Linked DNA regions of Homo sapiens. The protein of the gene in region 1 purifies or fractionates together with the protein of each later gene. This does not show direct contact. Each region holds a gene or a part of one and is shown on either strand. Other genes may lie near its edges. The genes, in order: HSPBAP1 and NCALD.

Evidence for each region.
Region 2: the proteins of HSPBAP1 (region 1) and NCALD purify together in Homo sapiens (affinity purification with mass spectrometry; 2 studies listed by BioGRID and IntAct, with this or other methods). This does not show direct contact.

The regions. Positions count from the first base shown.
Region 1 is NC_000003.12:122,748,554-122,752,371, reverse strand, and holds part of HSPBAP1 (HSPB1-associated protein 1), read left to right. Parts: intron 1-1,896; exon of another isoform or gene 1,897-2,000; intron 2,001-3,818. UniProt on the Homo sapiens protein: May play a role in cellular stress response.
Region 2 is NC_000008.11:101,689,899-101,693,716, reverse strand, and holds part of NCALD (neurocalcin-delta), read left to right. Parts: intron 1-820; coding exon 821-926; intron 927-3,818. UniProt on the Homo sapiens protein: May be involved in the calcium-dependent regulation of rhodopsin phosphorylation. Binds three calcium ions.

The DNA.
Region 1 (3,818 bases):
AAGGACACAGAATGCGCCTGATGCTGGCATGCAGGGTCCTTTCCCTTGACCAGTGTTGTTAGGAAAATTGTATTGGGCCTGGCCAGATTTGCCGATATGTGTCCCTTGTTGCCGCTCCTCTTTCACACCATCTGGGCTGGAAATACCTGCTTCTTGGTTCAGGGTCATTACTAATTGCAGAATTCTGTCTTGGCTTCTACATATTCTCAAAGCGGAGTCTTTCTTTCAGTGCTAGGTTTTTATCATTTCATTTCTGCCAGAAGCCTTTCCCTCTGATGTGTTAAGCTTAATCCTGGTTGCCTGCTCTATTTGACAATTAGAATAGCTGCTTGTTATGCTCAAGTCTGTCTCTTCAACTGGGGCCTTAATTGCAGCTGCCTCTCTTTAACCAGAGGCCCTGACTGCATCTCTGCTCTCCTTGACCTGAAGCCTGGATTGCATCTTTCTGCTCTGTTTGACAGCCGTATCCTCTCCCTAGTCTAGTTTTTCCTATCCTTTGCTAATAGGAATGGCTTTGGAATCAGTGGAACAGAAGGAATATTGTTACAGAAAGCTATGTTGTGTGGGCTTAGTGAAGAGTTGTAGCCCTTGAGGCTTAAGTGAGAGGTATGGCAGGAGATCAGTAGCGTCACAGAAATTTCGCCTATAGCATGCTGAACTGGAGTTGCAGCAGATGTCAAGGTAGAATCCATGGAGAACTTCCACTCCCAATGCCAAAGTCATATCTACAATAGCCCTGACAGGTGCTTCACCTCCCAAGGAAGTTCGCTTGTTGTTAAAGAGTAGAGCTGTCATCTTTTTAAAATATTTGAAAATACCTCCAAGTTTTTCCATAATCTTTTCTTCTTCCATGCTCAAAACCTCTTACTTTCTTTAATGGGGTGTTTTTATGGGTGATTTTTTCCTTTTTCCAGACTTTTTACCATTCTGGCCATAGACTTTGGAATCAGGCAACTTTAAGATACAGGTTACCTTTGTTAGCTGTCTAACATAGATAATTACTTAATCTCTTCAAGCCTCCATTTTCTTGTAAAATGAGGATTATAATTGAACCCACCTCAGTAGAGTAATTGGACAACACATTGTAAAAGCATCTAATATAGTGCGTGGCATATGGGAAGTGTTTAAAAAGTAGAAATTGCTATGAGGAGGAGGGAGAGCTATTATGTCAAGAATAGTTCTCTTAATATATAGTGCCTAAAACTGAATATCAGTAGGCCTTATTTGGTAGAGTATAAGATTTCTACCCCACATGATCTCGATCCTAAATATCTCCAGTGCTGCTTGTAATATTGGGTTAGTTTTTTAAGTAATCTCATCTCACTTTAGTTTCATATTCAACTTTAAAATATCTGTGATTTTTTTTCACATGATCTGCTGTCAGGCAGGTTGAATCCTATCCTGTACCTATAAAGCTGATTTTAATTCTAAATCCAGTATTTCACAGTCATCCCTGTTAATTTTCATCATATTGGTTTGGTTGAGCATTCCAGCTTGACAAGATAATTTTAAATTTGGGTCTTATCTGTCATTTTAGTGAAACTTCAAGCTGGCCTGTGCCCTTTTGATATGTCCCCGTTAATTAGACTTTGAGTGTATCCTGGCTTTCTGGCACAGGAAGATATCCCAGGATACCCTTTCTCCTTTAGTGCCCCACACTTGGAAGTCAATCATTTCTCCAGGTAGCCACAGTTCTTTTTGTAGGAAATGGCATTTAGAAACTGAGATCTCAGCTCTAAATCTGTTCATTGCTCCTGGGTGTCAGTGTTTCTAGGCTCTTTCAGTGATGTAGCTAGAATGTGAGATAGATAGATAGATTAGATAGATAGATAGATAGATAGATAGATAGATAGATATTGATGTATTTATATTTCTAATTCATGTGTTTAAAAAATATATCTAGACAGGTAATATGCTGACGTCATAACAAGGCTTAAGGGAGGCATGTCTCACACATGAGCATGACACCCAATCATCAGACTTATGAACTATAAAAGTATCTAATTCAAGTTTAACATGATAGAATTTTTTATTTGTTTCTGTATTTTTATCTCTTCTCTTAACACTGAAAATCTGGGTCCTTAAAAACAGTAACATAAGGCCGGGCACGGTGGCTTACGCCTGTAATCCCAGCACTTTGGGAGGCCGAGGTGGGTGGATCATGAGGTCAAAAGATCGAGACCATCCTGGCCAACATGGTGAAACCCTATCTCTACTAAAAATGCAAAAATTAGCTGGGCATAGTGGCACGCACCTGTAATCCCGGCTATTCGGGAGGCTGAGGCAGGAGAATCGCTTGAACCAGGGAGACAGAAGTTGCAGTGAGCCGAGATCAAGTCACTGCACTCTGGCCTGGCAACAGAGCGAGTCTCTGTCTCAAAAAAAAAAAAAAAGAAAGAAAACCAGTAACATATTTACTTGTTTGCTGTATCCAGCAATATATTTTTTAAGATATCAAATTTGGCCGGGTGCAGTGGCTCACACCTATAATCCCGGCACTTTGGGAGGCCGAGGCGGGCAGATCACATGGTCAGGAGATTGAGACCATCCTGGCCAACATGGTGAAACCCCTTCTCTACTAAAAAAATACAAAAAATTAGCCGGGCATGGTGGCGCATGCCTGTAGTTCCAGCTACTCAGGAGGCTGAGGCAGGGGAGTCACTTGAACCCAGGAGGTGGAGGTTGCAGTGAGCTGAGATCGCGCCATTGCACTCTAGCCTGGTGACAGAACAAGACTCCATCTCAAAAAAAGAAAAAGATGTCAAATTTATGTTTCCAAAATTCAAATAGTAATATTACTACTAACCATAAAGCTTGCAAGTAAAAATTAAGATTTCTTTGCAATTCTTTTTATTATTAGACTGTATCTATCACTAAGAGGGATAGATACAAAGTCCTTTATTCAGGAGTCATTGTGAAGGAATTCTTTTCATTTATGGTTATTTTACTAATTGGATATTTAGTTAAGTTCATTTGTTTCAGTTTGTTTTCAATTTTAGGATTTACCTTTTTAAAATTTTGATCTAATTTAATATTTTAAATATGTAGAACATTTAACTTGTCAAAACTATGTTAAAAGTTATACTCAGGGAAGTCTGCCTTTCATCCCTGTTCCATCCACTCCATTTTTCCCAACCTTTATAGAGATCCATTTTTATTCATTTCTGGTTTATCATTTCCAGTGTTTCTTGTAAACATATATATCTATATCTATATATAAAAGTAAGTAAATGAATAGATATATTTATATATGTAAATAAGTATATAAACAGTCTTATATGTACAAAGTGCATAAGCATATAAATATGTCTTTACTTATTTATATACTTATTCAAATATATTTTAAATTTTCTATCCTTTATTCCATAGAAAGTAATAAACTATAGTGTTCCATACCTTGCTTTTTTCAACAATAATATCTTGAATTTCACTACATAATAGTACAGAGAAATATTCATATTTTTCTTCAACCACTGTCTAGTACTTCACTGTATGGGTGCTCTACTGTTCATTAGTTCCTTTAAGGATAGATGTTTGGGTTGTTTCCAGTCTTTTGTAATTACAAATAATGCCACTGAATAACCTTGTGCATATGTTGTTTTATATTTGTTGAAGTGTGTCTTTGGGGGAGATCTTAACAATGGATTTGCCATGTCATAGGGTAAATGTATCTTTAATTTTGTTAGGTTTTGCCAAATTCAGCTTCATTGTGATTGTGCCATTTTGCATTTCCATTAGTAGTATGTGAAAGTGCTTGTTTCCTCCACAGCCTCACCAACAAAATCTGTTGTTGAACTTTATTGTTTTTGAGTCATAAT
Region 2 (3,818 bases), on another chromosome or scaffold:
CTCAAGGGTCCATGATAGGCATCCACTTGCCTCTCTAGCCTGAAGAATGTCATCTGCAGCCTTGCTCCTCAAAGTGGGAACCTTGCTTTTCAAAGCAGCGTCTTCAGAACAGCAGCATCAGCATCACACCGGAGCTTATTAAAAATACAGACTCTCAGCCCCACCCCTTTCCCCCACACTACCCAATCAGATTCTGCATTTTAACAAGATTCCCAGGGGATTTGTATGCACATAAACAATGGAGACGGCTAGGAGAGGTGGCGCATGTCTGTAATCCCAGCACTTTGGGAGGCTGAGGGAGGAGAAGCTTGAGCCCAGGAGTTCGAGACCAGCTTGGGCAACATAATGAGACCTTGTCTGTACAGAAAAAAAAAAAAAAAAAAAAAAAAAAAAAAAAACGCCCTGTGTGGTGGGGAGTACCTCTAGTCCCAGCTGCTGCTCAGGAGACTGAGGTGGGAGGATTGCTTGAGCCTATGAAATGGAGCCTGCAGTGAGCCGTAAGCGTGCCACTACACTCCAGCCTGGGTGACAGAATGAGACCCTGTCTCAAAAAACAATCAAAAAACATTGGAGACACAGGGGTCTACTGGGTCTTCCTGCTGGTTGTCCCTCCTGAAGGTCCTCACTGGAGGAGAACAAGCTTTGTGGGCCCGGCTTCTTCTACCTGTGCCTCCACATCTTATACCAATCAATAGGGGTAGGACTAGGTCCAATGCGGATGGGGACATTCCCTTCAGCCCGCATTTGGGAGGTTTAATGATAGGTCTATTGTGTGCCATACTGTTTTTCTGTCTTACCACCATGTCGCTTCTGTCCCCAGGCAATCTATAAGATGGTTTCCTCTGTAATGAAAATGCCTGAAGATGAGTCAACCCCAGAGAAAAGAACAGAAAAGATCTTCCGCCAGATGGACACCAATAGAGACGGTAGGAGGCGGGGGCTACACTGCTTTGCTCAGATGGGGGCTGCTGGAAGGACTGGAGAGTCCAGACTGGGAAGTGCCACTCGAGGCCCTTCAATGTGAGCGGCTCATCCTCCAAGCCTCCTGGGTGGGTAGGAGGGGAGAGGACCAGGTGGCCACAGGAGAGCTGAGCCCAGAATTGGGGGAAATGCCTTATTTCTAGTTTTTTCTATCCTCCTTGTAGGTCAACTTCTACCTCCAAGAAAACAGAATGGATCTTGTGGGGCAAGAATGAAAGGAACCAAGAAACCATTGTTAGCACAGACCCATCCTTGGGACAGGCCTAGGCTATAGCAGGCTGGGTCCCTGCAGTCCAGTTCATCAAAATGGGGAGAGGGTTGTTATTCTGTGATCCTACCCAGATGCCGACAGCTTTCACTCCAGCCTGCCAAAGGGGTTTTGTTGGGGTCTCCTGTGCATGCACTGAGATGTTGTGTTTCCCAGAGACAGTGGGCTCCCATAGTCACTGGGGTGCCCGGGGTAGTGGTGAGGGAGTAAGGTGCCCAGCAGGTTCCCACCCTGATGGTGCTACCCACAATTCAAACCCAACGAAGTGAAAAAGAAGGTTGCATTTCCAACTTAAGAACAGAAGGATTTTAGATCTTAAATTGCCAGATAGAATACAGGAGGCCCAATTATCCTGGAATTTCAGATAAACAGCAACAGTTGTTAGGATTAGCCTAACAATTGTTTAGCCAACTAAAAAAGTCACTTGCTGTTTATCTGAAATTCAAAGTTAACGGGGCATCATGTATTTAATTTGCCAGATCTGGCAACCCTATTTAAATGTTATACTTGAGTTTAAAGAGCTCAGCTCAGGGCCCGGCTCTGTAGCTCTTGCTGTTATTATCAGCTCACCCGATCTGTTCAGAGGCCTCGGCAATTCTTGTCAACCATGTGCACAGGCACTTGGGTCCCCCACCTGGCGCTGATCTATAGAACAGCAGAAGGCGGCTTCGCAGTACAGAGAGCCTCTGTCTCCTTTTATCCCCCGCCCAGGTACAGCTGCCTAAGAATCTGGGTTTGTGTGGTATGGGCCTGTCTGCTTGCTTGTTTCCTCCACAAAGGTGCCATTCCATTTGGAAACATCCTATGTCCCCTTATTTGCTTTGATTCACAATGAATAGTTGTGACTAAACAAGCACGGGATTATTTTAATAGTTAATTAACTTGCTGATGTTAAACTGCAGGTTTTACTGGTACTCAAGGGAGCACAATGGGTTTGTGCTGTGCTCTAGGTCCAGACAGCTCTTCAGGATAGGGCTGAAGGATGGGAGAAGATCAGATGTCACAGGATAAAGCCCTAAAGCCCTAACTGTGTGTTGATCACAGGCAATGAATTAGGGTCTTTCCACTGGGACTCTGCTGCTATGGGATTGCAGAGCCCTGACTGAGTTAGCATTCTCAGAGCACAACTTACTGCTAAAGACCTGTGCCTTTCCAAAGGAAAACCTCATGTTTAAAATTAAATTAAATTTTCAAAGGTTAGGGTTGGGAGAGGGGGGTGGGAGCTGTAGAAGGAAGGAGGAAGAGGGGCTGTAAGTTCACAGCTGTCAGAGGAATCTTAGCTCAACCAGGAGACTGGGTGCTTCAGCTCAGTGCTTGGCTGCTGGACCCCAGGATTGAGGACACCTGCACCCCTCCCTGCCGAGAGCAGAGCAGTCCTCACCTAGAGTCTCCTACCCTTAGATTTAGCTTGCCTGTTGCTCTTGGAATCTAACTTCTGGCCTCCGATTTGAAAAGAAAAATCTGGGCCCTCAGGCAAGTTCTCCTAGGAGCCAACTCTGAATCATGCAGACAGTTAAGTGAAGAAAGCCAGACGTCATGCCGAGCTCCAGGTCTGCCCCTGCTACCTCCAGCTGGTGCCTCCCAGAGCCGACCCCTGAGAGACTGCAAAGTGTTCAGAGATCACGCCTGTCTCCCTTCCCTCATGCCTTGCCAAGCTGGAGGAAGTCATTACCATTGTAACTACTATGTGGGCAGGGCTGGGCTCATAAAAAATGGCCAGCACACAGAGCTTGGAGGGGATCAGCTCTACAAATTAAAAATAAATTAATAAATGCATCCCTATCTTTTTCCTTCATGGAGATAAAGTGGGTTTCATTAAACAAGAACTAGGTTCTGGCGGGGAGGGAGTTGTGGCTGAGGAGAAGATATGTTTGTTGGTGTTTCTGTTGGGGGAGGCCCCCTCCTGTCAGGTTTGGAGTAAGTTGAGAAATAAAAGAGGACAGAGGTCAAAAGATAGATACTGGAGGCTATGGCTTAGCGTGAGAGTCCAAGGACGTGCTGAAAAACCCACAGGCGTGCAGAGCCAGGCAGGCCGGGTGCTGCCCTTGGAGGAGCAGATGGAAATAAATCCTCTCTGGGGCAGCTCCTTTCAAGAGAAAAAGGGAGGGCAAAGCTGGGCGGAGATGCCCAGCAATTCCTCCCAAATTTACCAATCGAGCATGTCACTTCACTCCCAGGGGCGGGGTAGACAAAGAGGAAGGGTCCTTCTGGAAGCACCAGGAATGGGAAAAGCCTTGCAGTCCCCCAACTCCTACCCCACCCCCTCCCCTCCTCTCCACAAGTGACAGGCCTTCCTGGAAGAGAATTCTGTACGTGCTCCAGAGTAAGCAGAAAGGAAAGGTCACCGGGGTCGGAGTGGGAGCCCAGGCTGCTGAGCCTCCCTCCTCCAGCACATCAGGGTAGCAGGAGAGCACCCTAACTGAGAGGCAGAAACCCATGGGTTACCCTCTGCCTTGAACATACCCTGCTCTTCCCTGACCTCAGATGGAGGCACAGCTGTCTTCCCGTGGTGTATGAACAAACACTTACGTCCACGGCTTCTTCCCCAAGATAGGATGGGCTCTTGCAG